Homo sapiens: one gene and its partners. The protein of the gene in region 1 purifies or fractionates together with the protein of each later gene. This does not show direct contact. Each region holds a gene or a part of one and is shown in the gene's direction. Other genes may lie near its edges. The genes, in order: CMKLR1, KIDINS220, SLC25A46, SACM1L, TUBGCP3, ROBO1 and TVP23C.

Evidence for each region.
Region 2: the proteins of CMKLR1 (region 1) and KIDINS220 purify together in Homo sapiens (affinity purification with mass spectrometry; one large-scale study listed by BioGRID and IntAct). This does not show direct contact.
Region 3: the proteins of CMKLR1 (region 1) and SLC25A46 purify together in Homo sapiens (affinity purification with mass spectrometry; one large-scale study listed by BioGRID and IntAct). This does not show direct contact.
Region 4: the proteins of CMKLR1 (region 1) and SACM1L purify together in Homo sapiens (co-immunoprecipitation; 2 studies listed by BioGRID and IntAct, with this or other methods). This does not show direct contact.
Region 5: the proteins of CMKLR1 (region 1) and TUBGCP3 purify together in Homo sapiens (affinity purification with mass spectrometry; one large-scale study listed by BioGRID and IntAct). This does not show direct contact.
Region 6: the proteins of CMKLR1 (region 1) and ROBO1 purify together in Homo sapiens (co-immunoprecipitation; 2 studies listed by BioGRID and IntAct, with this or other methods). This does not show direct contact.
Region 7: the proteins of CMKLR1 (region 1) and TVP23C purify together in Homo sapiens (affinity purification with mass spectrometry, with the first as the bait; one large-scale study listed by BioGRID). This does not show direct contact.

What each region holds. Positions count from the first base shown.
Region 1 is NC_000012.12:108,332,334-108,336,468, reverse strand, and holds part of CMKLR1 (chemerin-like receptor 1), read left to right. Parts: intron 1-4,135. UniProt on the Homo sapiens protein: Receptor for the chemoattractant adipokine chemerin/RARRES2 and for the omega-3 fatty acid derived molecule resolvin E1.
Region 2 is NC_000002.12:8,827,162-8,831,296, reverse strand, and holds part of KIDINS220 (kinase D-interacting substrate of 220 kDa), read left to right. Parts: intron 1-4,135. UniProt on the Homo sapiens protein: Promotes a prolonged MAP-kinase signaling by neurotrophins through activation of a Rap1-dependent mechanism. Provides a docking site for the CRKL-C3G complex, resulting in Rap1-dependent sustained ERK activation.
Region 3 is NC_000005.10:110,748,894-110,753,028, forward strand, and holds part of SLC25A46 (mitochondrial outer membrane protein SLC25A46), read left to right. Parts: intron 1-4,135. UniProt on the Homo sapiens protein: Transmembrane protein of the mitochondrial outer membrane that controls mitochondrial organization.
Region 4 is NC_000003.12:45,737,458-45,741,592, forward strand, and holds part of SACM1L (phosphatidylinositol-3-phosphatase SAC1), read left to right. Parts: intron 1-125; coding exon 126-195; intron 196-314; coding exon 315-387; intron 388-1,120; coding exon 1,121-1,214; intron 1,215-1,323; coding exon 1,324-1,416; intron 1,417-2,129; coding exon 2,130-2,187; intron 2,188-4,135.
Region 5 is NC_000013.11:112,549,728-112,553,862, reverse strand, and holds part of TUBGCP3 (gamma-tubulin complex component 3), read left to right. Parts: intron 1-4,135. UniProt on the Homo sapiens protein: Component of the gamma-tubulin ring complex (gTuRC) which mediates microtubule nucleation.
Region 6 is NC_000003.12:79,761,117-79,765,251, reverse strand, and holds part of ROBO1 (roundabout homolog 1 isoform a precursor), read left to right. Parts: intron 1-4,135. UniProt on the Homo sapiens protein: Receptor for SLIT1 and SLIT2 that mediates cellular responses to molecular guidance cues in cellular migration, including axonal navigation at the ventral midline of the neural tube and projection of axons to different regions during neuronal development.
Region 7 is NC_000017.11:15,542,710-15,546,844, reverse strand, and holds part of TVP23C (Golgi apparatus membrane protein TVP23 homolog C), read left to right. Parts: intron 1-928; coding exon 929-1,060; intron 1,061-4,135. Other genes in the region: TVP23C-CDRT4 (uncharacterized protein LOC100533496), read left to right, coding at 929-1,060.

The sequences.
Region 1 (4,135 bases):
GTTCACGCCATTCTCCTGCCTCAGCCTCCCAAGTAGCTGCGACTACAGGCACCCACCACCCCGCCCGGCTAATTTTTTGTATTTTTAGTAGAGACGGGGTTTCACCGTATTAGCCAGGATGGTCTCAATCTCCTGACCTTGTGATCCACCCACCTCGGCCTCCAAAAGTGCTGGGATTACAGGCGTGAGCCACTGCGCCCGGCCAATTGTGAGTGTTTCTTAAAGCTTCAGTTTGGAAATCAGAATCTCTGTGGATGAGGCTTCAGTGTCTGCATGTTGAACCAGCACCCCAGGTCATTCAGATGCACCCCAAAACTTGAGAACTACCAACCTAGAGTGCTTAAAAGTCTTTCCTTTTTGCCCTTTGTTCACACTGGGGTCTTGGGTTCTTTGCTGCACAATAAGGTTTCTTTTTTCCCTTCTAAGCAAATATTCATGTACTTCTGTGAATCCACATGTTCCGTGTCAGCAGTTGAGGCCAGAAGGTTTGGCAGAGAAGAAGCGAAACTTTGTCTTATAGTACCACAGAAAGTCAGATCGTGTTAGCAATCCCCCAGCATGGAGGCTTTGAAATTATTTTCAGTTGCAGAATCCTTTCCACAAATGAAAGTCTTATGGGGAAGTGTAATTTGAAAACAGATAAAGGTGGTGTTATTCTTGTTGAAACAGAGGTGGAAGACTCCAGGCTGCCACTAAATCTCACTCTTGTTGCTGAAGGGCCTCTAAGAATCTTTGTAGCTCCATGGGGCAGGCAGGAAACTGCAACTCCTCTACTCCAAGGAGTTAAGAGACCAAAGTTCTAGACATTTGTTGAGCTTACTGTGTGACCTTGGCAAGGCACTCTTACTCTTTGGCCACAATAATTTCATCTGTAAATAAGGAGGTCGAATGGTATATCAGCTAGGGTAGTAGCTGCAGTAACAAATAGGTCCCCAAAGGCATAAGGGCTGAAGCAAAGCAGAGCTTTATTATAAGGCAAGTATTTCTGAATGGAGGGTGGTCCTCTTCCTCATGGTACTTCAGTGACTCATCTGGTGGTCCCACTCTCTCCTCAGATATCCTCATTGTCTGCAGCCAGGTGCACAAGACAAAAGAAAGTATGGAGGTGGCATATTTGCTTATCTGCTTTGGCCTGGAAGCAGCAGACATGACTTCCACTCACATGAGAACTATCATGTGGCCAATCTAGTTGCAAAGGAGGCCAGGACATGGAGTTACAAGGATATGAGGTTCTTGGCAAAGAGCAGCTCTTTCCCAGCCACAGTCGTGTATTGTGGACAGGGAGAATGAATTTTTGTGGACAGCTACCTGTCTCTGTCACAAATGTGGTGACCTCTTGGGTTGCTTCCATTCTTTGATTCTAAGTCTACATTTCCATTAGTCAATCTTAGTTAACATGGTGATGTTGGACTCACAACATCACCTATCCTCAAGGTAATTCCCATCAAATATACTAAGTAAATTTCCAGACTCCAGGCCCCTAAACATGGATTTTTCTGAAACATAGGCAACTGCCATTCTCTTTTCCCCCTGGAAAAAGGAAATAAGAATAATGGTTTGATAGAACATGCTGCGGGTTATTAAGCCAAAGGTATTTATATCCATTATCTACTTGAATCTCCCTACAAGCCTACATGGAAAGGCCTCAGGACTATCATCCCCATTTTATAGGTGAATAAAATGAGGCTCAGAGAGCTAAAGGGACTTGCCTAAGGTCACACAGCTCATAGCAAAAGAATGGGATTTGAACGAAAAACATCTTATTCCTGTCCTAGGGCCCCACTGCACATTTGAATGTTGGTGTTCATGTACGTGTACATGGTGTGGTTAGAGTCGGGATTTTCCTTGGGCTGGGCTCCCCCAGGGCTGGGCATGAGGGAAGTGAAAGCTCAGGAATCATGCTCAAACTCCCCAGAATGGGCCAAGGCTGCTGACTGTAAGGCAGCTGGGTGGTTGTCCTAGGTCCTGGGGTGAAGAAGTACAGTGTGACCAAGTATTACAGCCACTGGCTGTGTAAAAGAGAAGGGACAGTGCATGAGGGTGTTGTGTGGTCCTGGAAGACACTGAGGCTTCAACTGGGCTGGCCACATAGTGGGTGCCTGGGAGCACTTTCCTGTGTGAATAAATGCATGTGGGAGTAACAGCTGCAGCACTGTGAGAAAATGAGATGAATCAGACCTGCTTCCTGTCTTTGAGGCCCTCAGGGGAGGAGAGACAAACTTGTAACATATACTTTTATTAATTCACTCAACAAACATTTATTAGCATCTACTACACGTCTGGCTCTCCACAGGGCAAGAACGATGGAAAGACAGGATTCCTATCCTTGTGGAACCCATTTGAGAGATGAGGAAAGTGAGGCCCTGATTGGTTACGTGACATTCCCAAGATCATTTGGCCAGATTAGGACTTGAAACACCTGGCTTCCAGCCCAGCACTTTTTCCATAGCCCCTGCTGAGGAGGTGGCCGTAGGCCAGGACTGAGATGCAGTGAGGAGCCCCTGTTATTGGCAGCCACTTTGAGCTGCCGCCGGACTCAGGACATGCTGGTTTCAGGCGATAGCACGAAACCAGTTATTTCTTTTTAGAACCTCTAGATTTTTGCAGCAATGGACACAGGTATGAATGAGAAAAAGTAGAAATCCTTGCACTGTCAGATGGAATCAAGAGGCAGTAATTCTACGTGGTGCTATCAGAGAAAGAAATGTTGACGTCTGGGTGACGTTGGCTGGTAGCACACTGTGGTGATGATAGATCCCAGATCCAAGTGCTCCAGAGTTGAGATCCCAGCTCTGAACTTTAACCTCCTGAGCCCCTCAGCTTCCTCATTCATAAGGTGGGCATGCTATGAGTACCTGCCTGTCAGGGTTATGGTGAGATTAAATGAGTCCATATCCATCAAGCACTGAGTACAGCACGTGGTCAGTTCAGTGAAGGCATTTCTATTTTTATTTTTGGGACAGTGAGCTTTGAAATTGGCCTTTGCACATCTGGGTGTCTGGTGCCTTGTGATCTTGGGTTCCCAGACTGGAAAATGTCATTTGGGCTAGTCTCTTGCCTCCATGTCTGGCCCCAAGGAGAGGTCTTGGGCTCTGCTGGTGGAGAGTGCCCTGGGCCTCACTGTCTTCACCATAGACAGTCTCTGGCAATGTTGGAAGTACCAGCGGCTGACTCAGCAGGGAGGTCAGCTGCTATCCAGGCAGAATGTCAGAATCGGTTCTGCTTTCTTGGGGTATAGGACATGGGTCCTCAGATTCCAGCCCTGGGTTCCTGCTGAGGGCAGCTCTTGTGCAAGGAGGTGGGTGGGTGGGGAGATGGGTACAAAAAACAACAGTGAGCACACTTGGTTTTTCCTCCTGGAAATCAGGGGTCAGAGAAACAGGAAGTCAATGGAGAGAGGGTGTGGTGTAGTGAGAAGAGGGCAGGCCCTGTGGTCTGGCAGATGTGAGTTCTAATCCTGGGTTTGACACCTATTGATTTATTTTTTATTTTTTGAGACAAAATCTCATTCTGTCACCCAGGCTGGAGTGTAGTGACATGATCACAGCTCATTTGCAGCCTCGACCTCTGGGGCTTAAGTAATCCTCCCACCTCCTGAGTAGGTGGGACTATAGGCATGCATTACCATGTCTGGCTAGTTTTTGTATTTTTTGTAGAGACAGGATGTATTAGTCAGGGTTCTCTTAGAGGGTTCTCTTACGGTTCACTCTCTACATATAAAAAGGGGGAGCTTATTAAGTATTAATTTACATGATCACAAGGTCACACAATAGGCCATCTGCAAGGAGAATCAGTCTGAGTCCCAAAACTGGAGAACTTGGAATCCGATGTTCGAGGGCAAGAAGCATCCAGCATGGTAGAAAGATGTAGGCTGGGAGGCTAGGCCGGTCTCTCCTTTTCAGGTTTTTCTGCCTGCTTTATAGTCTCTGGAAGCTAATTAGATTGTGCCCACCGGAGTAAGGGTGGATCTGCCTTCCCCAGCCCACTGACTCAAATGTTAATCTCTTTTGGCAACACCCACACAGACACATGCAGGATTAATACTTATTATATTTTAATCCAATCAAGTTGACACTCAGTATTAACCATCACACAGGGTCTCACCACATTGCCCAAGCTGGTCTTGAACTCCTGG
Region 2 (4,135 bases), on another chromosome or scaffold:
ATAAGGCTGGAATGGTAAGATGGGGCCAGATTGTGAAGAATCTGCATGCCCTCATCATAATCAAGAATTGAACTTACTGAGTTTTCACTCTGCTCAGTGGAGAGCAAAGCTTTCCGTAGGAATTGTGTATTTGCATCTTTACAATGGCTTTAAAAGCCTTAGAAGGCGTAAGTTCCTTGAATAACTTGTAAGTAGTAAAGCTGTCATCTGTCCTCCCAACCTTGGTTTTAGGAGAGATGTATTGTAGGTCACTCTTGCTTCAGTGTGGCAAATGGATTGCAGGTGGCAGGCCTGGAGAGAGGAGGCAAAAGTTGCTAGCCTGTCACATTGATCTGGGTGAGAGATGGTGTAGTAGAAGTTTTTAGGATTGATGCCTAGATCACAACTGTTTACTCTTTTCTGGAAACAGTGCCAATATGGTGTGACCTTGTAACCCCCTCCCAACTTTGTGTCTCTAGTTGCTTGGTTCTGGGTGTGCAACAGATCCAGCCTGGGCAGTCAGAGCCCTTTTCTGGGACTGTTGGATCTGGGAACAAAGAATAGCCTGCTTTCTCTGGTGTTAGAGACTATCTGATTTAGGCCAGGTGCGGTGGCTCACACCTGTAATCCCAACACTTTGGGAGGCAGAGGCAGGCGCATCACTTGAGCCCAGGAGTTTGAGACCAGCCTGGGCAACATGGTGAAACTTCATTTCTACAAAAAATAGAAAAATTAGCTGGGCATGGTGGTGTGCACCTGTAGTCCCAACTACTCAGGAGGCTGAGGTGGGAGGATCGCTTGAGCCCTAGAGGTCAAGGCTGCAGTGAGCCATGATCGTGCTACTGCACTCCAGTCTGAGTGACAGAGTGAGACCCTGTCTCAAAAAATAAATAAACGATCTGATTTGAGGCTGGATGGCTGTGGGAAGCCATATTTCCCTTTGTGTAGAAGTAGTTGGTCTAGAAGGAAAGTAGATTAAGCCAGTAGAGAAAGAGAATCCTCCTGGCATTTGAGGTCCAGTGGCACCCACTCTTCCTGTAGTGTGGTTATGGGAAATAAACCATTATCCTTCAAATACATTTTTCTGTTTTGCTTAAGCTAGTTTAAATTAGTCTCTTGCAACCTTAGGGGTCTTGATTAGTATAGATGGTGAAGGTCTAAACTAAGGCACTGAGTGTGGGGTTGGGTGATCTCACACTTTAGGGGGTAAACTGGATGAAAAATGGTAGCTGTGTGACTCAGAGGGAGATGGGTGCCTTGGTAGAGTAGAGATGAGGATGGTGTTCTACATGGAAGGAGCACATTGAGCATAGGCGGGAGTGTGGAGCAGCACTGGGGGAGTGTGGTGAATTTGAGTTCTTCTGCTTGGCTGGGCTGTGGGGTGAGCTGGGGCTGGTATAGAGGGAGAGCCAGATCCTGCAAACCTCACTGAGGCCTTAGGCTTGATCCTAGAAGGAGTGGGAATAAATGAAGGTAGGTGTTGGTGATGACTGCTAATACAAACCCTCACTGCTTTCTAATGATAGAAGCATCACATTCCAGAACATGTAGGAGATAAAGGTTTTAAAGAAAATAAAAATTACACTAATGCCCATCACCATTTGTTCTTTTTTTATTTCCAGTATTTAAAAATGTATACATTTAAAATAGCTGAGATGCTGTATATATAGCTCTTAATCTTTTACCTCACTTCTTCTATCATGAGCATTTTTCTGTAACACATTTTTTGAGACATTTTGATGACTGTATATTATCCTACTTTGTGAATTTTTATAATTTATATAATATCCATTTCTAAGATTTTTGTTCTTATGGATAAAATTGTTTTACTTAAAATCTTAAAATTTTGTTCATGTTTCTCATGTTTTTAGAATAATTCCTAGAAGTGCAACTATGGGATCAAATAACATCATTTTTTAAAATAATAGTTTTTCACCCCAAGAGTATAAATTCAAGTTGTTCTGAATATATACTCCCTAAAAGTAAGGTATACTGATTTATACTTTACATGTAATAACATTCACCCTTTTTAATGGACAGTTCTGAATTTTGACAAACGAATGATTGTGTAACTGCCACAACAGTCAAGATATAGAACAGCCATTAACTCGCCAAATTCTCTTGTACTCTTTTGTAGCCATCTCATTCCCCTGCCTTAGACCCTGGCAGCCCCGATCTGTTTTCTGCCCCTGCAGTTTTCCTTTTCCAGAATGCTATATAAGTAGAATCATATAGTGCTATAGTTTCTGCCCTCTGGCCCCCAGAGATAGATTTCCTTCCTGTGTCAAAACATATTCACTCCATCGCAAGGCCTCCCCAAAAGTCTCAGTTCATTTCAGCATCAACCCAAAGTCCACAGTCTCATTTAAATCTCATCATCTAAATCAGGTATGAGAGGGTCTGGGTGTAGTCCATCCAGAGGCATGATTCCTTTCCACCTGGGAAACGCAAGAATCAAGTTATCTGCTCCAACTTAGAGTTAGGGAATGGGCATGGGATATCAGTTATAGACAGTCCTGTTCAAGGGTGGAGGAAAAGGAAGGCAAAGAGGATTCACCAGTCCCAAATAATTTCATTTTCATAACAGCCAAAGTTTTCAATTTTGACGAACTCTGGTTTATCAGTTTTCTTTTTTTATGCACCATGCTTTTAGTGTTATATCAAATCTTTCTTAATCTAAGGTCACTGAAGTCATCTATATTTTCTTCTAGAAGTTTTGTACTTTCAGACATTATATTTAGGTCAATTTTGAGTTAGCACCTGTATGTGGTACAAAGTATGGATTGAGGTTTATTTATTTGCATTTGGATGTCCAGTTGAATATAATAAAATTTCTACTCTTTTAGAACTTATAGTTATGGTAGACAGACAATAAGTGAACAATATGTCATTTTTTGGATGGTGGCAAGTGGTGTGGAGAGCAGTGAAAGCAGGACAAAGGGTTGAGAGTGCAGGGTGACAGTGAAGCCTGTGTGGGGTCGGTACCCTGACATCCCACATCCGGTGAGACTTTGTAACCAGGTGACCTGACGGGGTCAGGGGGTAAGCCGTGTGCATGTCCTGTGGAAGAGAATTTTAGGCAGACAGAAAAGTAGCACAGAGGCCTGGCGAGGTGGGACGGTGCTCAGTGTGGCCATGCAGCCAGGAGGGTGAGAGGGGGTGGTAGGAGCTACAGTCACAGGTGTCACACAGGTGAGAGGCTTGCCACTGAAGAGTTATCTTGGCCAAGGTAAAAACATTTGATTTTACTTTGAGCACCCCGAGAAGCCCTTAGAGGGCTTTGAATAAAAGAGGCCATGCTCTGACTTAGTACTGCTCACATTGTGGTTCTTCCTCAGTGTTGTCAGTGTCACAGGGAGCTGGATAAAGATGCAGAGTCAGGGGCCCCACTCAGACCTGCTGAGTCAGAATCTCTGACGGTGGGGCCCAGGAATCTGCTTTAAAAGCTCTTCAGGTGATTCTGATATATGTTAAAGTTTTAAAAAAAGTAATGTAATTTTAATTGACAAATTATATATATTTAGGGGTACAATGTGATGTTTTGATACATGTATCCATTGTGGAATGATCAAATCAGGCTAATTAACATATTCATCACCTCCCATACTTAATTATTTATTTGCAGTGAGACCATTTAAAATCCACTCTTCCAGGTAAAGTGGAGGCAGGGAGGCCAGTTAGGAAGCGATGATAGTGACGCAGGTGAGTCACGGTGGCTCGTCCAGGGTGGCAGTGATGAAGTGGTGAGTAGTAGTCAGATGTGAAATGTATTTTACAGGTAGAGCCAAAAGCATTTGCTAATAGATTGAGTGTAGGGTGTAAGAGGAAGAGGTAAGTCATGAACAATTTCAATGCTTTTGGCCTTGGAAGAATGGACCTGGAGCTGCCGTTTACTGGCATGGTGACAGCAGGAGGAGCAGGGGAGCATTTTGGAGTGGTGATGAGGAGGGTTTGGGGATGGATGTGGAGTTTGGTGTTTGGATAAGTTAAGATGGAGGTGAGTGTGAACCTAAGAGACATCACGGCAGCTTTTTGACACCTGAGCTATGGAAGCCGTGGGAAGTCGTATCTTCACTTCTGCCACTGGAGGTGTCCTTGCATGAGGTTAATGTTAAGAAGGATATTGTATTTAATAGTAACTTAATTTTTTCTAATT
Region 3 (4,135 bases), on another chromosome or scaffold:
TCTATGGGTTTGGAATGTGTTTCTTTTTTTAATATATAGATGTTCTGATCAAGATATATTCAAATGGCAGTATAAAATAAATGGAGTTGTATAGACAGATTTATGGAGATCTATTGTAATAATCTAGGCGAGGCTGAGAAGGTTCTGAACTGTGGAACAGAACAGAAAGGGATGAGCTGGCTAGACATTTCTGAAGTATAGTCGATGGTCATTATGTTAGCTTGGTAATTGGAGATAGGAGAGAATGAGTTGTCAGTAGTGACTGAGATTTCTAGATTGGAAAATGTTAACCAAGATGGAGAATTCAAGAAGAAGAAAAAGTTGGAGTAGGGAAGAAGATAAAGAATTTATCTTTCAATAAATGAAGTTTGAGATTCTTGCAAGACATTGAGGGAGAGGGACATGTCTCATATTTGGTTGGAACCATGGATCAGAGTAAAAAAAAAAAAATAGAAAATTGAAGCACAGGGAGAGCTTTGGGTATTGTGGCATAAAAGTAGCAGCTGAAGCTTAGGATAGATGAAATCACCTAAGGAGAAAGCATAGATTAAATGAATAAAATGGACCAAGGACAGAATCCTAGGCATACATGTGTGCCGTGTGTGTGTGGGAGCGGTGGGAAGGGGGGTAGTTGGGGGAGATAATGAGAGAAATTAGAGAGGGCCTCAGACAAATTGGAAATAGCATAAGATGTAGGACAATCATGTTCTAGAAACCAAAAATGGGAGAATTAGAAGTGTAGATACATTTGAGAGAGAGGGTAGAGAAATTAGGGAAATTTGCTTTTGGGTCTCTCTTTTCTCTGTGAAGCAGGATACAGGGTTATTTGGTGAAAAAATGATAAGCATTGGGGTTGTAGTAGAAAAGCATGAGAGGAATGATACACATTTGGGACAGTCACAATGATGGGTAACAAAGGAATCTTACAAAGAGTATATGAAAGGAATGTTAATAGGTAATATTGGAAATTAGAAATTTTTAAGGTGCTATTTGGCATTACTCTGATTTTCTATATCAGCACTATATTTTTGTATATCATCCTATCGATAATGTTAAAGGCTTTGGAATGGTTTGTTAATCCAAATTTATTCTCTGGCAAGGTGAATTTTTTGCATTGTTAAAGAAGTGAGATAGTTGAAGGCATAGCTACTAGTGTAACGCATATGCCCAATGTTGGGATTTAGTCCTTACAGGGAAGGAAATGAAAGCAAGAGAAACTGATAGTAAGCTTTTTTCCAATGTGATTGCTTTTGAAGGACCTCGTAGTCTTGAAGTGCCTTAAATAAACTTTGCTAAAACGTTTGAAACAAAACAAAGATTAGAAAGGTCAGCAACATTTGGGCAGCTCAGAGTTTCTTGTTTTATTCTTTAAAAATCTGTATTTCGTTGTTTGGCTAACTATTCACTTTATTGCTTTTATATCACTAGATAAGATCCCAAGTTAGTACTTATAGTCAAATATTCTTGAAATTCTTTAACAAACAATTCTGTAAAAAAATAACAAAATGCAGGAAATTCCATTTGGTAGAGTGAAAAAAATTCAATGCAGTTGTTCCTCATATCTGTAGGGGATTGATTCCAGGACCCCCAGTGGATACCAAAATCCAGAGATGCTTAAGTCCCTTTTATAAAATGGTGTTGTATTTGCATACAACCTGTACATAACCTCCTGTATACTTTAAATCATTTCTTGATTCCTTGTAATACCAAATACAATGTAAATGCTATGTAAATAGTTGTTATTCTATATTGTTTAGGGAATAATGACAAGAAAGAAAAAAACTCTGTACACATTCAGTACAGATGCAACTATCCCTTTTTTAAATAAATATTGTAAATCCGTAGTTGCCTGAATCCATGTATGTGGAACCCATGGATATGGAGGGTTGACTATATTTGCAACCAGAACACTATTGGTTCAGGTCCTGGCTATTCCACTTTTTATTTCTGGGACCTTATGCAAGTAATGTTGCCTCTCTAAAGCAGAGATGAAGGAATAACATTAATTTCAGGCTACAGGGAAGAAAAAAGAAAAATAGGAATGGGAAGGCATAGGACTTTATAAAATTTTATCATCTAACTTTCTTACTCAGTAGACAGACATGTCAACTGAGTGGGAATATATTTTCATCATTTTGAATCTTTCCAAAGAAGACAAAATAGTAACCTCTATTGCATTGTTCTACTTGGATAATTTTGGTGATAAGGCCCACTCATTAATTCATTCATTTACTTGGCTAACATTTCCTGAGTACTTACTATGTGCCAGGTTCTGTGCTAAAAACCGGGTTTACAGTGAGGAAAATAAACAAAAGGTAACTGTTGCCAGGAAGCTCAGAATCTAATAAAAGTACATTCACTAAGAACAATAATTCCATTAATGAATAATTGCAAATTGAAATTTGTTTTCTGAAGCAAAAGAATATAGTTCCATGAAAGTATTAAAGGGCTAGAAACAGTGTCCCTAGTAACATGACACTTAAGGTAGATCAGAGTGGTAATTAGGAGGTACATACCAGTTTGTACAAAAATGCTGTTGCAGTGGGGAGCCTAGAGAATTCAGGTGTAACTGAGAGAAGCCTCACATGGCTGGAGCTCTGGCCAAGGGTAAGGGTACAGAGCAGGTGGGAGCCAGAACATGTGTGGCCCTGTAGGCCATTTTAAGAATATTGAAGAGGTTCAGTAAGGTCAGTGACATCAGATTTGTTTTCAAAGGGTCATTGTAACTGTAGATGAAAAGGTTGTATGAGGACCAAAGTGAATAAAAGGAGACATCTTAGTATTCTATTACAATAATAAAGGTAAGAAAAGATAGTGGCTAAGATCAGGGTGGTATCTTTTGAGATAGAGGTAAGTGGACAGTTTTGAAATATACTTAGGTCAAACTGAGGGAATTTGGTGATGCTTTAGGAATGGTAGATCAAAGAGAAGGCAGTATGAAGAATGACTTCTTGTATTTGGGCTTGTGTAACTAGTTGTCAAATGAAGCTGTTTTTTTGAAGTATAGTGTGAATATCTTTTAAAAAATTATTTATTCTTCTTTGGGCAGATTTGACCTTTCCTATTAATGGGAAGAAGGCAGAGTTTGTTTCTGTATCCTATTAATGGGAAGAAGGAGCAAACAAGGTCACAAAACATTAACAGCAGTTCACAGAAGCTACTACATGAGGAGGATGAGCTCTGAGGTCTCCTAGCCTGGGGTTTTTTAATTGCGTAACATTTACTAGGTAGAACAGGGGAGATAGTACAGATTTGCCAATATTTAGGGGTTTTTAAATACAGTTTATGATCAAATCAAAGAGAAAAACAGCAGATCTCTAGTGTTCATTAAGTCAGCAAATTTATAATTTCTCAGTAGTATTACTTTTTAACAAATTATATATTAGCCAGGATCGTCATGTGTGATCTCTTTAGCAGTAGATACTGCTAAACCCTTCCCTGTTCTCTCTCCCAGTTGCAGTGAGTTAAACCATGTGTCGTTCTACCCCCACAGTACCCTTTACTTAATTTACATGTGGCTTTTTTCAGACTGTTAACGCGAGGTAGGAGTTCCTGTAACCAAGGCTACCTGTGTGGTTCAGTCTCTCACAAAACCCATTTGGTTCAACTCCAACTTAGTTTTGACTCATCACACATCTGTGGTTATACCACTGTAAACATCTTGTAGTTTTCCTCCAACGGTTCCCTCCGAATTTGCTTATTTTAAACACACGTTATTTTAAACACAATGAAATCTTCCTCAAATTCAATAGATTTCCTTTCTGATTAATAGTTCCTGAGTAGGGAACACTGAAAGAGTTTAAGTAGAAAAGAAAGATTTTAAGTTGGACTTTAGTACAAGTGCATTTTCAGATCTTTTATCATATCCAGATGGAGTTGTCTGTAGGCACATGATATGGGGCTGGCATATAAAGAATTCTTAACTGAAGGTAAATTAATTTGGGAGATTTTGAAGCTCTAACCCTAGATATGAGCGTCGCTAGGGAAGAAGGATACACTATGGTAGAAGAATAGAGTCTGAACCTTAGGAACTCCAACCAAGGGGTGGCTGGGTTAAGAAAGGTGGTCTTGAAAAGGAGTCAGGAGAGACCAGAAGGCAGGATAAAAACCAACAGAATGGGCTAGTGGAGCACAG
Region 4 (4,135 bases), on another chromosome or scaffold:
GACATTTCTGGCCTGCATCCAGCAACCAGGCACCATGAGATAAAATTTGGGGACTGCTTTTTCTTCCTAAACCATGTCTGCTAAAATCTATTACACATAAATCTGGGTGTGGTTTTTTATTCCAGAGACTAGGAGTTTTGCATGTGGGACAAAAGCTTGAAGAACAAGATGAATTTGAGAAGATTTACAAAAATGGTAGGTCATTTCTTTAATATAGACAAAGTTGGTCAGATTTTGAAATAAATTAATATTCTGGATTTAGAACTTTGTTTGTCATCTTAATAATTATCAGCTGTTTTTACTTTTTTCTACAGCCTGGGCTGACAACGCAAATGCTTGTGCCAAGCAATATGCGGGAACTGGTGCCTTGAAGACTGACTTTACCAGGCAAGCCATGCTTTTAAAATAGCATTCCACATCAGTAGTTCACAGTCCTGGTGCTTTTAAAAATCACCTGGGCAGCTTTCAGACAGCAGCAGCAACAACAGCAAGACTCCAGCATCTGGGCCTCACTTGAGACCTGTGGAGTCAGGATTTCTGGGAAGTGAGGCCCGGGTACTGGTGTGTTCTTAGCCACCCTGGGAGATTCTGATGCTTGGGGAGGGTTGAGAGCCACCGCTCCACAGTGCTCCTCAGACCTTACCGTGTACCTGAAGCACCAGTCTTGAGATGTGCTCTAAAAAGCACCCAGGTGATGCTGATGCTGCTTTCAAAGACTGCACTGAGTAATGAGGACATTAATGAGAACATTTTGAATGTATTATGCATGCAGTGGCTCTTTTTCTGCTATGTGGGTTCCCTGGGAGCAGAATAAGATTTCTAGTCTGTTTGCTTTGCTGTGTCCTACCACTTAACCTGGGCTATGTATTTCTCTTCATATTTCTTGTCTTTGCAACTGGAATTAGTGTGTTTCTTTGTGCCTCCTTTGGTAATATTTTAGAAAGAAAATAGGTATTTCTTGGACCTACAAGTGATTTCTTTTGTGAAGTATCTGTATTTTCAGGGATAGTTTTTAAAATCTGTCACTCACTTATTTCTATACCTTATGCTTATTGGCCATAAAACAGTGTGAGAATTCAGTGTACAAACCTGTAACTTAAAATTTAACCTCTTTAACCAGAACTGGAAAGAGAACTCATTTGGGACTTATAATGGATGGCTGGAACTCAATGATACGATATTATAAGAACAACTTTTCCGATGGATTTAGACAAGTAAGTTTGTATTTGATGCTTTCCTGGCATTACGTGGTTGTATCTTTGCATTGTTCATCACTAATGTTATCTCACACTGAGTTTACGAATTTCTTCCTTTCTGTTCTAGGATTCCATAGACTTATTTCTTGGAAACTATTCAGTGGATGAATTAGAATCTCATAGTCCTTTAAGTGTTCCAAGGGACTGGAAATTCCTGGCTGTAAGAAACCATTTTGTATTTTTCAAGTTTTTAAAAGCATTGTGTCTGAAGGTATAGATGGTTTCAGTCTCAATTTAAAACGTTATATGTGGTTTTATATTTCATTACATGAAATATAAATACTTAAGTTTTCCAAAGAGGTCAGGCTGAGGAGTACAGTAACTGTGGAGCATTTGTTTTCTTTTCCTCAGACTCTCACACATCCTTTTCATGTGAAGTAACATAAGCAAAGGGAATGTGGAAGCTTTCTCATTTCAGGAAAACTTCAATTCTCTTACATTGAGGGAATTGCCAGAGACAAACGTGTTACATGGAAGGCAAAGTTTATTTTTGATGCTTCTCTCCTTTTTGACTCCTCTGTTCACCAGACCCTGCAAGAGCCGCTCTGGATTTTCTTTCCAGTGTGTCAAGTGCTCTGGAATGGAAGGGAGGCCTAGTGTTCTAGGTCCTCATCTGGGCATCCTCCTTCCATTTAGCACCCTTTGGCTTGGAGCAAAAGCATGCTTCTTCCGATCTTACCACATCCCCCATCTAAAGTCTAGGGCAGTTGTGATTGAACCCATAAATAATAATGTTTTGTTGACAAAAGATATTAGCTGTGTATTAGCTGACAGATGAGTTTTATTCTTTTCCCAAGCAATGCATGCACAACTGATTTTGCTGCCATTGATTAGCATTCTTAAATGATGATCTCTTTCTATTGTCTTTTCCAGTTGCCTATTATCATGGTTGTTGCCTTTTCAATGTGCATTATCTGTTTGCTTATGGCTGGTAAGTCTGCTCCACACATTTGTTTCTTAGTTAGAATGTTGACCTTTCTTTTACAACATCTTAAGTTTTTGAGTTCACCGAACACTTGATGTTTCCCTATTAAATTTAATGGGTAAAGTGGATGTGACATTAGATTGTCATTAGATGTGACAGGAAGAAAAATAACATACCTAGTAGTTTGATGGTTGTCGTTTTTTTTAACCTCAGATTTTAAAAACATGTTTTTCTTATTACTGTAAACCAATGAGTGTCTGAGACAGGTCTCAGTCAGTTTAGAGGCTTAATTTGCCAAGGTTGAGGACCTGCCCAGGAAAAAGAGACACAAGATACAGTAGGATCAGTATCTTGTGCTTTTTCCAAAGAGGGTTTTAAGGACTTCAGTATTAAATGGGGAAAGAGTGTACAGGAGAGGAAGGAGGAATGGAAACAAAAGGGGAGGGTAGGTAGTAAGATAAGTGGTCACATTCTTGTGAGGCTTTGATTAGCACTCACTGAATCCATGTTACATGTGAAAGGACGGGGTAGAGGAACAGTCAATTATGCATTCATCTCCTGCTCAGTAAATCTGCATTTTATGTAAGACAAAGTAAACATAGAGTAGATAAAGAAGTCAGATCTGCATTTGTTTTGGGGTGGGCGGAGGGATGATTTTCTAGTCTTGTCTTTGTCCCATACCTGTGAAAATAAACTGTTAATTTACATTGTCAGGGTGAGGGAGATTCAACAGGACTGTCTTTTAGGGTAAAGATTTTGGGGCCCACAAGGAATTTGCTTGTGACAGTTTGTGAGGGTGGCCATCTGTGAGGATATGTGGCCCACTATCTTTGCAGCTGTCTACTTAGGAACAAAAGGAGGGTAGTTTTGTGAGACTCAGTTCCCAAGTTTAACTTTTTCCTTTGGCATAGTAAATTTGGAGTCCTGAGATTTTATTTTCCTTTCACATTACCAAAGTAATACATAGTAATTATAGAAAGCACACGTAGGCAGAAAAGGAGAAAATATTATTTATCATCATACCTTTGAGAGAGAAGCTAACCACTCTTAACATTTTGATGTTTTAATCTTTATAAGTGTCTGTGATTTTTTTTCAAAAGTGAGATACGTATTTTCATTATCTGCTTTTTTTCACTGAGCAGTATGTTTTCCCATGTTCTTAATTGCTAATGGCTGCAAAGTATTCCATTTATGGATGTATAGTTTAACCAACTCAAATAAATGTTAATGGATTAAGATATTACTTATCATTACATTTTAAAGGTTGAGAGTAAAATTGCCTGAGAACCTGAGGAGACAAGGTCTTTACTGGTTTTCTTTTTTCTCTTAATATTTTGCTATGTTACTGAGTTAATAAAGCATTTAAGATTAAAGTGAGAAGAATGTATTCTTTATTCTCCTTTGAGTAATGTCCTGTAATTTGGAGGTTTGAGTCTGAGACTTGGTGTATTGGACGTTGGAGATGCAATCCTAGTCACTCTGAAAGAAGAGGCACCTTCCAGCCTTCATCCTCTATCCTGAATTCGTTGAGCCAACCTCTCTCTGCCTGTCTGAATTCCACCATCCTCAGGGCACCATTCATATGCTCCCCTCTCACAGAGTGTCTCTCCCACACAGAAGTCTTCACCTTCTGTCTGGATTTCCACAGCACTCCTGGTCCTCTCTCCCAGCACTTTCCTCTTTTAACCTCATTAATACATAGGGAGTTATTTTTCAGAGGTGGTATACCTCTTTGGTGTACCTGACATACCCAGTGTGTATTTCTTTTTGGATGGTAATGATTTGCATACTTGTTTGTTTTTTTCACTGGATCAGCAACTTTTTGAAGGTAAAGACTGTGTCTTACTCATTGTTTTATCTCCTTTGTCCAGGATATAGTGAGCCCTCAGTAAATGTTTGCTGAATTAAGGACTCACTCCACCACCACCACTAATTCTGTCACCTTTTTGATAGG
Region 5 (4,135 bases), on another chromosome or scaffold:
TGGCTCAGGAACTGCTGGAGGACTGTAAAATACAGAGAAAATGGTGAGACAGAGCTGGCCATGGGGAGCTGGCATTGCCCGATTCCAAACGCTCGAAGGGGGCCCTGCCCAGCTGCTGCTGCCTCCTCCAGAAGGTTGAGGAGGGGCCCTGCTGGGACGGGGCCTGCCAACAGGGGACACTCCCAGCTGCGTGATTCCCCAGGCAGCACGGTGAGGCAGGATTTGGGAACACTGCCGAAGCTGGAGATGGGAATCCTGGCTATGGCTGTCTGGACAGCCCTGGGTGGGCACTGCCGATGGCACAGTGCATGGTTGGGAGGGAGCTGCTGCTGCTTCTCCTCCTGTTGGAGCCTGACAGGGGGCAGCTAATAGGAGCCGTGGCATCTCCACTGTCCAGCCCTTCTTTGTGGCTAAGCAGCATGTGGTCTTGTCCATAGGTTGATTATTGGGCAGTAATTACTGCCAATGAAATCTCCAAAAATTATTGAATCACAGAACAACTGTGTACTATAAGCTCAGCGTAGCACAGGACTTATGGCAGCGTAGCTGGTGGGTAGGAGGGTGGCTGGTGAGTAGGAGCGTGACTGATGGAGAAGAGCATGGCTGGTGGGGAGGAGTGTGGTGCTGTAGTGTGGCTGGTGGGCAGGAACGTGGCCGGTGGGTAAGAATGTGGCTGGTGAGTAGGCACTTGGTGTGGCAGTGTGGCTAGTGGGTAAGAACATGGCTGGTGATTAGGCATGTGGTGTGGCAGTGTGGCTGGTGGGGAGGAGCATGGCTGGTGGGTAAGAACGTGGCTGGGAGTAGGAGCATGGCCGGTGGTTGGGAATGTGGCTAGTGAGGAGGAGTGTGGGTGGTGGGTAAGAATGTGTGGCTGGTGAGTAGGCGAGTAGTGTGGCAGTGTGGCTGGTGAGTAGGAGCATGGCTGGTGGGGAGGAGTGTGCTGTGGCAGCGTGGCTGCTGAGTAGGAGCATGGCTGATGGGGAAGAGCGTGGCTGGTGGGGAGGAGCGTGGCTGGTGGGGAGGAGTGTGCTGTGGCAGTGTGGCTGCTGAGTAGGAGCATGGCTGATGGGGAAGAGCGTGGCTGGTGGGGAGGAGCGTGGCTGGTGGGGAGGAGTGTGCTGTGGCAGCGTGGCTGCTGAGTAGGCATCACACTTTGAGCTTTGAAGCGAGGCAGCCCAGGGTTCTGGTTTGGGCTTCTCCTGTAATGGTCACGTCATCTTGCCCAGGTTATCTTCTGTTGGCCACAAGTTTCTTCCTGCATAGAGTGGGGTAGTGATTACCTCTAGGATTGTGAAGGTGGGGAGAGAATGCGTATAAAGATGCTGCTTCCCAGTCTAGTACTGTTTTCTGTTCTGTTTGCCAGTCTAGTGAATTGCTCGATGACCAGCCACCACTCTCCCTCATTGCAAGGGCAGATAGGAGTGAGCTGGCTCTTTCTCGAGGCAGGTAGGACTGGTGGGCCGTCCCCTCAGGAGCCAGCTGTAATTTTAGAGTCCCTGTCCCTTTTCCCGAAGGGAGTGTTTTATCATGTCTGGGTTTATATCATCATCTTATGCAAGTGTCACTGATAGGTCCCAGTCAACTTGATAGACATGAAGCAAAACACACACACAAAATCAATACAGGATAACTAAACCATTATGTAGATATTTTATTCCAGGAGATGGATTGATCATCACTATAGTAGTATCATATTATGTTTTATAGCAGGGGTCCCCAGTTCCTGGACTGTGGACCGGTACTGGTTCATGGCCTGTTAGGAACTGGGCCGCACGGCAGGAGGTGAGTGGAGGGCGAGCAGGCATGACCGCCTGAGCTCTGCCTCCTGTCAGATCAGTGATGGCATTAGTTTCATAGGAGTGTGATCCCTGTTGTGAACCGTGCATTCAAGGGATCTAGGTTGCATGCTTCGTATGAGAATCTAATGTCTGATTATCTGAGGTGGGAACAGTTTTATCCCAAAACCACTCTGCCCCCCCATCCCACCCTGGTCCGTGGAAAAAATGTCTTCCACAAAACCAGTCCCTGGTGCCAAAAAGGTCGGGGACTGCTGTTTATAGTACTGGACTTTAGAGGCTCTTCTTTTATCTTCTTTCTCCTTATCGATTATCATAGCAGCCTTCTAAAATGATCAGGGCAAGCATTAATTGTCCCCATTTTGCAGATGTGAGAATTGAACCTCAGCAAGTTTGATTGATTTGACCAAGTTGCCCTGACTAGTAGATGGCAGGTATGGACTAGGGTGTGACGTGTCACTCTGTTCCAAAGCTGTCTCTGTTCTTCCATTTCCTGCTGTTTGGAGTCATTGCTTGGTGCCATCCAGTTGCTGAAGGAGTGATGGTTTATTTATCTTATTTGAAGAGCCAGCGTGTGCTCTCAGTGGGGTGACCGTGTGCCCTAATTTATGCCTTGCATAATTTATGTCCTGTGTCAGTATTACCAGTGCCCACAATTAGCCTTGGAGGTGTCCTGGCTCTAGACATACCAAATGGAGCAAAATCATATATGAATGAAGATACTGTTTTGTAAGTGTGAAACTTACATGTGCATTTAATGAACCAAGGTGGAAACAGCCTCTGCTAACCACAGGCCTTTTCCCTCTGAGTGTGTGTGGCGCTGCCGCGCTCTGCCTGCACTTCCACTCTTTTGGTTGTAGACTTCTCAGAAGCTGACTCACATACACCTGTATATAAATACTTAGATTCTACACGTTGGATAATGATTTGATTATTTCAGCAGGTTTTGTTTTTGTTTTTTTTTTGAGACGGAGTCGTCTCGCTCTGTCACCCAGGCTGGAGTGCAGTGGCGCGATCTCGGCTCACTGCAAGCTCCGCCTCCCATGTTCACGCCATTCTCCTTCCTCAGCCTCCCGAGTAGCCGGAACCACAGGCACCCACCACCACGCCCGGCTAATTTTTTTGTATTTTTAATAGAGACGGGGTTTCACTGTGTTAGCCAGGATGGTCTTAATCTCCTGACCTCATGATCTGCCCGCCTTGGCCTCCCAAAGTGATGAGATTACAGGCGTGAGCCACCGCACCTGGCCGCATATTTCAGCAGGTTTTTCAAAGCTTTGATGTGTTTATGTGTCTGCTCTCCTGCCCTGGGGCTGGGATGGAGTTTTGGTAAAGAGTGATGCTGTGCCTGAGCAGATTCCATGTCGTTTTCTCTGTAAATATTACCTAAGAAAACTGACCTATGGTTTAGTAAGCACCTTTGTGCCCACACTGTGCCAGGCGCTTGCCCTACGTTACCGCATTTATTCTTCCTCCCTTTGTAGATGAGCCTAGAGGTTCATACCGTCAGGGGCTGACACGTGGCGGTACCTCCAGCGGGAGCCCTGGATTTTTACCCCCTGGTCTGTCTCATTCCAGACTCTAGGACGTTTCTTCTTGCACACCTCACTTTTGACGTGTCCTTTTGTGTCTACAAAATTAGTATGTTTTATGTTCATTTTCATACTTGAAAATGTTCACATTTGTCTTAGTCCACAAACCATAAATGCAGTAAAATACACCTATAGGTGACTGCTGATATATTTTAAAAATATACAGAAAGGTATGCAACCTACATATTTACTTAAAGAAAACAAGTTTAAAAAACAATTAAAAAAAATTTTTTGATGGAGTTTTGCTGGATAAAACTGAATGAGAAAGAACACAGGTTTATCCCTTGCAGGCTGCTTCTGCTGTGGGCTCCTTGAACAGCAGAGCTGCCCCCAGGCATCCTGGAGTTACATCCCACAGCTCATCCCTGAAGGCTCTTGCCACAGGACTGGATGCAGGTGTATCAGGGTGCCTCTTCTAGCTTCTGATTCCTGTTGTTTTGACCTGACTCCTTTCAGTATTTTTTTTTTTTTTTTTTTTTTTTTTTGAGATGGAGTCTCACCCTGTCGCCCAGGCTGAAGTGCAGTGTTGTGATCTTGGCTCACTGCAAGCCCCGCCTCCTGTGTTCAAGCCATTCTCCTGCCTCAGCCTCCTGAGTAGCTGGGACCACAGGCACCCGCCAACACGCCCGGCTAATTTTTGGTATTTTTAGTAGAGACAGGGGTCTCACCATGTTAGCCAGGATGGTCTCGATCTCCTGGCCTCGTGATCCGCCCGCCTTGGCCTCCCAAAGTGCTAGGATTACAGGC
Region 6 (4,135 bases), on another chromosome or scaffold:
TGTTGCCACGGTTTTTGGACTTCCTTTAGCCTTTTCGCACATATCTTCCTGCTCCATGCCTCTTCCAATTTAGCCCTGTAGGAGCTGCAGAATTGAAGCACAATGACACAGCTGCAGATCCCTGGTGGAGCCTTGCTTCAGAAAACAGCTGTTAATCACATGTTTGTTGTATTTTCCTATTTACTTCCTTTTACTTCCCTTCGCTTCCCTTAGCCTGTCCTTGAACCAGTGTTACCATCTTCTGGGCTCTACTCTATGAAGGTTAGTGATTTCCAGTGATATAGCACTGAGCTGAGCATGGGAGGAGGGGAGAGACTCAACAGCTGCCTAGGGAGTCCCAAAGGTTTAATGCCAACTTTCTCTTACCCTATACTGCACAAAATAAAGAACAAATACCCTAATATCTCCCCAAAGAGAACTGCATTGTTCTGTATAATTTTCTTTTATCTTATAACATAGTAGAATCAATTCAAATACAAAATAACATTGACCAGAGATGAAAAGGAAGCTATACACTTGTGTGCACTATTTGGAAAGTAGTGTTGTGCTTAGCTATAAAATCTCACTTTTTGGCCTTCATCTATACTTAATACATTAGGAACTACTTTTATTTAAGCAAGATTTAATGTATTACTTTCATTACAAAGCTGAGAAACTCTAGACACCACAAAGATGTGAATTTTAAATGAAAAAAAGCAAGGCAGTAAAGTAAGCCCCTGGCAGCTTGATGAATGAGCAGGTGCAATGCACCATTTGAAATGTATCTTGAGGTGAGCTTCCACCAATCTGCTGGAGAATGAGCTCCTTCTTGCCACCTAAACTCAACTGATTTTCCTCTTTCTGAGACCACAGACAAAAACATGATAGCATACAATAGGCTAGATTATGACCTGGTCACATAATCATTTATCTCTCTAAACTTGCTGTTGAAGTGAGCAATGTTACTGTTAATGTATTCATATTTGTACCTAAAATATATTAGTGCCAATTCTCCTAATTCTATAGGAAATTGAGGTCCTAGAAGGCTAACTGACTAATTCAAAACTACATAGGATAAAACTGTAGAAACAGTGTTAGTCACCGTACCTGCAATAGATATTTCACTTAATCCCCACATAACCCTTTCAAAGTAGGCTTTATTAGATGTCTACAACACATGAAGAGAATGAAGCTCAGAGAGTTTAAGGAAAATAGACATGACTATTCAGCCAAAAAGGGGCAGAGCCAGGATTAAAAACAAGTTCTTTCTCATGACAGAGTACATGCTTTTCTAGTATGTCATACTGCTGCTTTTAAGGGAGCCATTCTCTTCAGTTAACTGGACCTACCTATTTTCCCCCATATTTAAACAAGGAGTTTGATTATTCCTTGAATTTTATTTTAGTACTCATAATTTTTTAATCTCCTTGATATCTTTTTCATGTCCAAAGCATTATCTGCATTTCTCCAAGAGCAAACTTTTACAGTTACTTTCCAAGGATCTCATAAACAGTAAATAACTTTTTCAGAAAATATACCCCACCCCTATCTGCCACCCTGCCTGTATCATCTCTGGGGGTCAGAGCACTTGGGGAAAACTGAGGGGCTTTCCATTTTCTTTGAAATTTGTGCATATGTAGCCAGGATGCCTGCTAAGGATCCAGTACGTCAGTTTCAGCCAGTTGTTCTTTTCTGCCTTTCCATTTCTGCACACGTGTCTTCTCTAATCTGCAAAATTATCTTCTTCATTTGGCCAAACCCTATCCATTTGTCTAGGGTGGTTCATGTTCCTTCTCCACCATAAAATTTTTCTTATTATTCCAACCCTATTGCTGTTCCTTACCTCTGAAATTCCAAGTAATTTCCAATAACATCTGCTGTCTAATTTGGTCTTTATTCAGGGATTAAGAGGAGTAAGCTAACATTTTTTGAGCCTTTACCTTATATACTTTTACATACATTATCCATCAACTATAAATTTCTATTTCTTCATTATATTTCTGCATTTTGCCCTTATTATTTTTTCGCACTCGATAGTCACCCAGATGTTGTGATACATTTCCGGAGTTTCAGTAATGACATTCAAATTTTATATTTCTTGTCCATGCATTGCTCCTGATTGTCATACCTATATTTCCAAAGATCTAATTTCATCTCCACCTAGAAATGCATCACAAGCATTTTAAAGGAAACTGTCCTAAAGGAAAGCATTCAAAGCCACAGGTATCATCCTCCCTGCCACACTTGCTTATCTCTTTAGATTTCCAAGTGGTAAATAGCACATCATGCATCAAGACACATTCCTCTTTGCTATGTCCCTCTGCCTCATTCCCTATGATCATGTAGTGAAAAGAAAAAAAAAATTATGATTTTTCTCTTGAACTTCACCTCTTCTCCTCATGGGCCTGCCCTCCAATTCTTACTTCCACTTCCTGGGATCAGCCATTTGAAGTCATGTGCAACAAGTTTGGCGAGCTATCTGTCAGGGCAAAAATGACAATTTCTAAACTCCTTAGTCATTGAAGGTACTCTGTGATATGAAGCATGAATTCTTCTTTTCAGTCTTCAGAATTATCAATTACTATGAAAATTTACTTGCATTTTCTTAAACACTCAGGATGTTTCATTCCTCTCGGCTTTTGTGTGTGTGTGTGTGTGTGTGTTTGTCCAGAATTCTGCCCCAAATGGTTCTCACTTTCTTATTTTTTTAGCGATGTTTGAAAACACAAAACAAGTGTCACTTCTTCTGTGAAGACCTTCATGTTAAGAAAATAGGTTTAAGTATTCCTCCCTTTCTGATCATTTAATAATGCCTCTGAAATTCCATTGTAATCATTTATTCGTTTCTACTATGAGACTGCGCTATGTTCTGAATGCTGTGTCTTCTCCAAATTCATATGCTGAAATTAAAATTAGGAAGTGGGGCCTTTGGGAGATGACTAGACCATGAAAGCAGAGCCCTCAGGAATGGAATTAGTGCCCTTATAAAAGAGGTCTGAGTAAGCTCTCTTGCCCCTTCCCCCCCGACTAAACATAAGAAGATGGCTGTCTATGAAGCAGAAAGTGGGTCCTCCCCAGACACCAAATCTTCCAGCGCCTTGATATTGGACTTTCCAGCCTCTAAAACTATGAGAAAAGCATTTCTATTGTTTACAAGGCACCTATTCCATAGCACTTTGTTGTAGCACCCTAAAGATACTAAGACAGACTCTAAATTCTGTGAAGCAGTATGTCTCAAACTTTGTCCATTGAACCAAATAAATCTTAAAAGTGAAAAAAGTAGCCCTTAAAACACCAGTCCCAGGATCCCCCATCAGAATTACTACAATAGAATATATGGGGGTGGGGCACTTGAGTCCACATATTAACAGAATCTATTCCAGGTGTAACTAGGAACAGGGAGTTTATCACAACAATTGCTCTCCAATTCAGTCAGATCAATATGGCACTTAATTTAGCATTTGGGGGAGGAGCCATTTGCAAAGCTTTTTAGATCTTATTTTGTGTCTTCCCAGATTACCGTGCTTCAGAGAAAGATTTGCTTAGAGTATAGTAAATTAGATCACATGAGTCACTCTTACTGAAGTACAAGAGTCCTGCATCAGAAAGGCAGATTTGCCAAGAGCAGAATTTCAGTAATCACATGTGAACATGGCATTTAGAGTTGAGGTGCTGCTGTGCAGAGTACTTGGAGCTTTTAATGACTCTGACTTTTTATTATTATGACAAGTTTGATTAGCAGACACAAAAATGAGTGAAACAAGTTCCCTTGAATTACCACCCAGGTTAAGTAATAAAAGATTAAATGTAATATTGAAGTTTTCTGGGTACTCTTCCAGATTGAATCTCCCTTCTAAGAGGTAACCAGTGTGGTAAATTTGCTGTTATTATTTCTATGCATTTTCTCTTGAGTTTACTGTATATATTACATATTTAATTCATATATAGTATTGTCTTAAGTAAATAAAATATTAGCCTAAATTGTCAAATATTGTTTGCATTCTTGGAAATATTTTTTTATGATTAATTCAAGTTGCTTCGGGTACAGTTACTTTATTCATATTCATTGCAATATAGTGTTCTATAAATACTATAAGTATATACATATATTATATTTTTAAATATATTATTATTATATATTTAGTAGGTATGGTAA
Region 7 (4,135 bases), on another chromosome or scaffold:
AGACACTGGGTCTGAGTTCATACAGTGTGCTAAGCTGCCTGTCAGGGATTGCTGATAAAAGATCTCTGTGTTGCCTTTGTTAGTGTCTCCATAAATCCCTCTATGCTCAGCAGATAACTGCTTTTAACATCTTGTTCTGTCTTTGCTCCTGTGGTCGTCTTTCATTTCTGGGCAGGAAAAAGGAGGAGGAGTGCAGCTGGATAGAATATCTGATTGGAGCACTCTATTCCTAAGCTTCTGCCTTCAGGAGCCCTGGGGATCCTGGTCTGTTTTGGGTTAGCCTGCTACACTATAGTGAATATTCACTTTCCTTGTGGAAATAAGTTTTGGAAGCAGAGGACCAAATTCTTGGCGACAGTACACCAAGGGTATTGACAAGTTATTTTAAGAAAGTGGCACTGTGTTCAATGAGCCTGTATTCCTTTATATTATGGAATCTACCTTGGAAACAACTTACCACCCTTGTAAATTCCTGGGTATTGCTAAGACATTTTGATTATTGTCCAGAATCCCTTGATTCCGTTTTTTTTTTCCCCTCTGGACCCTAATTTGACCTTTTAGTCTCCAGAATGATTATAACTGTGATTTCCTTGATCATTGGTCAGAAAGGTATCATTTAGAGCTTCCTTATGAATAAATAGTACAAGTGCAAGAAGAATTGAATAGAAGCCTATCAGAGACCACTCTTTACTGTCATGAGTTGTGGTAAACCATCCATCCTGCCCTGAAAATGCAAAATTCTTGAGTTAATATAGATCAGTTCCTAAAATTACGAGAGTGATAGTCATGTATTTTTGGGTTCTAACTTAGGAGTTGGGCTATGTGTATTAATATTTGAACTTGTGGGTAATATGTTTTTTATTAAATATGTTGAACTTTTTATTGATAAATTTCACAACATGATAATTGAATTTATGTTCTTTTATAGGAGTCCTCTCAAGAGAATAAAACTGTGTCAGAGGCTGAATCAAGAATCTTTTGGTTGGGACTTATTGCCTGTTCAGTACTGTGGGTGATATTTGCCTTTAGTGCACTCTTCTCCTTCACAGTAAAGTGGCTGGTGAGTATCAGTGTAGAACTTTCAAATAATCCATTAAGATGTCTGATGGTAATCATAGGAAGCAACAACTGCAACTGAGTCCTTATCATTAGGGACCTATCTTGAATAGGCAGCTTCATCATGTAATTCCCAAGTTTTGCTTCCCAACTTTACCTTTCTCTATAATACTGGAGAAGAGATCCTAAAAAACCCCTTCCCACCAGTTTTCTAGGATATTAGTGGTCTTTTCTGGAAATAATGGTTGGTAATCTGTTTTGGTTACCTATTGCTGCCTAACAAATCACCCCAAAACATAGTGGCTTAGAGCAACAACAGCCATTATCTCACAGTTTCTATGGGTCAGGATCTTGGGAAGGGCTCTGCTGGGAGATTCTGGCTTGGGGTCTTGAGTAGTTGTAGTCAGACAGTAGTTGGAATGATGGGGGTTGTGAGCCATCTCCTCTTCATGAGGTCCCATGGCCTCTCCACATGTTTTTCCATGTGCCTTGGTTTGGGCTTCCTCATGGCATGGTGGCCTCATGGTGGTGGGACTGCTTACGTGGCAGCCCAGTACTTCACTTGTGGGGTGTTCTAGCTCACAAGCTTTTACAATCTAGCCTAAGATGTCATAGCATTGCTTCTGCTGCCCACTCACATTCAAGGAAATGGGAATTAGGCTCTACTCTTGATAAGGAATAAGAAGGTGCTAGAAGACTTTGTGGAAGAGGAGATATTGTTGCTGCTGTCTTTGGAAAATATAGTTTGTCACTTGACCCAATTTGTGAGTCTTACTCTTTTTTATATCTCATATTGTTTTTTCTTATTCTATCTTATATCTGATATGAATAAATATTGTGTGAATTTTCACACAATATTTATTGATATCAGATATATTTTGGCCTTAATTATGTTTTTCCTCCTAATTTGTAGTATTTTCTTAGTCCTATTTTGTGATATAGATTCTTTTTTTCTTTGTGTGTGCTCATACATTCATACTTTCCTTCTTTGGATTTGGAAGCTTATTGGAAGCTTATTGTCTTTTTTCAGTTCTTCTGGTAGTTACCTTTAATTACTTTATATGTTATATCATTACCCTCTTTCATGAATTAGGAAATGTATTCAGTATTTATGGAGTTCCTGCTCTGGAAAATGGGAAACTTTACGCTAATATGGTTTCTTTAACTTCTCCCTCCTCCTACCTCTAGAGTTTTGCTTATTATAGTCTTATTTTAGTCCTTCTAGTGGTTTTCTTTGTAACATTAATTAATGTACTTAAACCTGTTTATTGACTTAATAGACTCTGTTTAGAAAGGGAAGAAAATAAACACTCATATTCCTTCCTATGAGTTTCCTCCTTTCTCTCTTGTTTGTTCCAATGTTATTTTTGTGTTACCAAGTTTTATAATAGTTATCTTTTGAAAACATATTTCTTACTGGTTGTTCAGTCTTTGATCTGTTTTTTAAAAAAGTCAATTCATTGCCTATCACCAGTCTTATTGCAGCTTCTCCTTTTACTTATTGGTTGGCTACATTTTCTTTTGACTCATGTTTAAACATATGAGCCTATTGACTATTCTTAAATGATGACCTGGCTGGATTAATATTCTTGGGTCACAGTTTGTTTCTTTTTGGAGGATGCTATTCCATCATTTTCTTTCACTGAATATCTTGGAGAAGTCTGAGGCCAGGCTTACTTAACCTTTGTAATCTCTCCTCATAAGGTGTTTTTTTTTTTAGTTCATGTAACCCAGATGTATTTGTATTTATCTTTCCATATCAAGTTTTCTGGAGTCTGTGCCTTTCTGACAGGCAGACTAAAGTTTTGCTTGGAATCAGGAAAATTTTTTCTGTTAAATCTTTGCATTTATTTATGTTCTATGGTTTGACCTTTTATTTTGAAGTACCAGTTACGTTTATGTTGGATCATTTTTATTTGTTTTCATCTACTATTTTCTTGTTGCTTTAATTATTCATCTTTTCCTTATTTATTCAGCAATTTTAAGAGTTCACTCTTATGTCAGAGCTGTCTGGGGACACAGGGGGACAAGTTAGGGGACAGTAAACAAGTTGACTGCTCCAGTAGAGCTTATGTTCTAGTGGAAGGTAGATAAACAGTAAAAAATACAGTAGGGGATGTTAGTTAATGATACAAAGTAATGGGGTAGAGAGTGCAGAGGAGAGAACAGTAACTATTTTAAGTGCTCAGCTAAGGCTTCTCTCTGTATTTCCTTAGCTTTGTCAGCTCCATTTTCATCTCCTGTTATCTCACCCTCATGCTTTTTGAGTTCTTTTCTTTAGGTTTTTCTGTAGGGTGAAATAGTCCCAGGAATGCTTTTATTTTGGTGGGTTTTTTTTCTTTTCGAGTAGATTCTTCACCTATCTTCTGTATACTATGCTTCTTTTTTCTTTTTTCGCTATAGTTTTGCATAAATGCACTTCCCTTTTTCCTTATCCATTTTGCTTATCCTTACAGTGACAGTCCTGTCCAGCCCTTCTCTTTCTGCTGGTTTAGTGCGGGTGAATCCCCCTTGACCACCTTCTCCTGATGTCTGAGGCACGTGGCTGCTGCTCTGAGCTGGAGTTGCAGTGCTGGGTTTGGTAGCCTGAAGGCACAGGTGTGATGTGCGATGTGGAGAACTTACCAGGCTCTTGCTGTCTTGGCTGGGCTGCCTGGTTTTGCGTTCTCTTCCTTAGTGGGGCTCTTGTCTGCTGGTTGGCTGTGCACTCTCTTCTGGTTCTTCCCTTCTGCTTTGGATTGTTTGTAAGACCTTAGAGCTTTAGCATCCATCCAAGAGAGTGAGCCCAGTCTTTTTCTAGCAGTGTTTCTACTTCCTTAAAACAAAACAGGGAGAGGTTATGTGAAAGCCAGTTTGATCCTGTGTTAACCTACTTATGCCTAGTGTTCCATTATTGGAACGCTAAGCATGTAGGAGTTATTTATATCCTACTGCTCAAGGTAATCACCAAGGTCTGATTTTTCACTCATGCAAAAATTCACAAAATTGCAGCCTACAGCATAAATGGGTTAAGACCTTGGCATGGTGGCTCATGCCTGTAATCCCAGCACTTTGGGAGGGCCAAGGCGGGCGGATCACG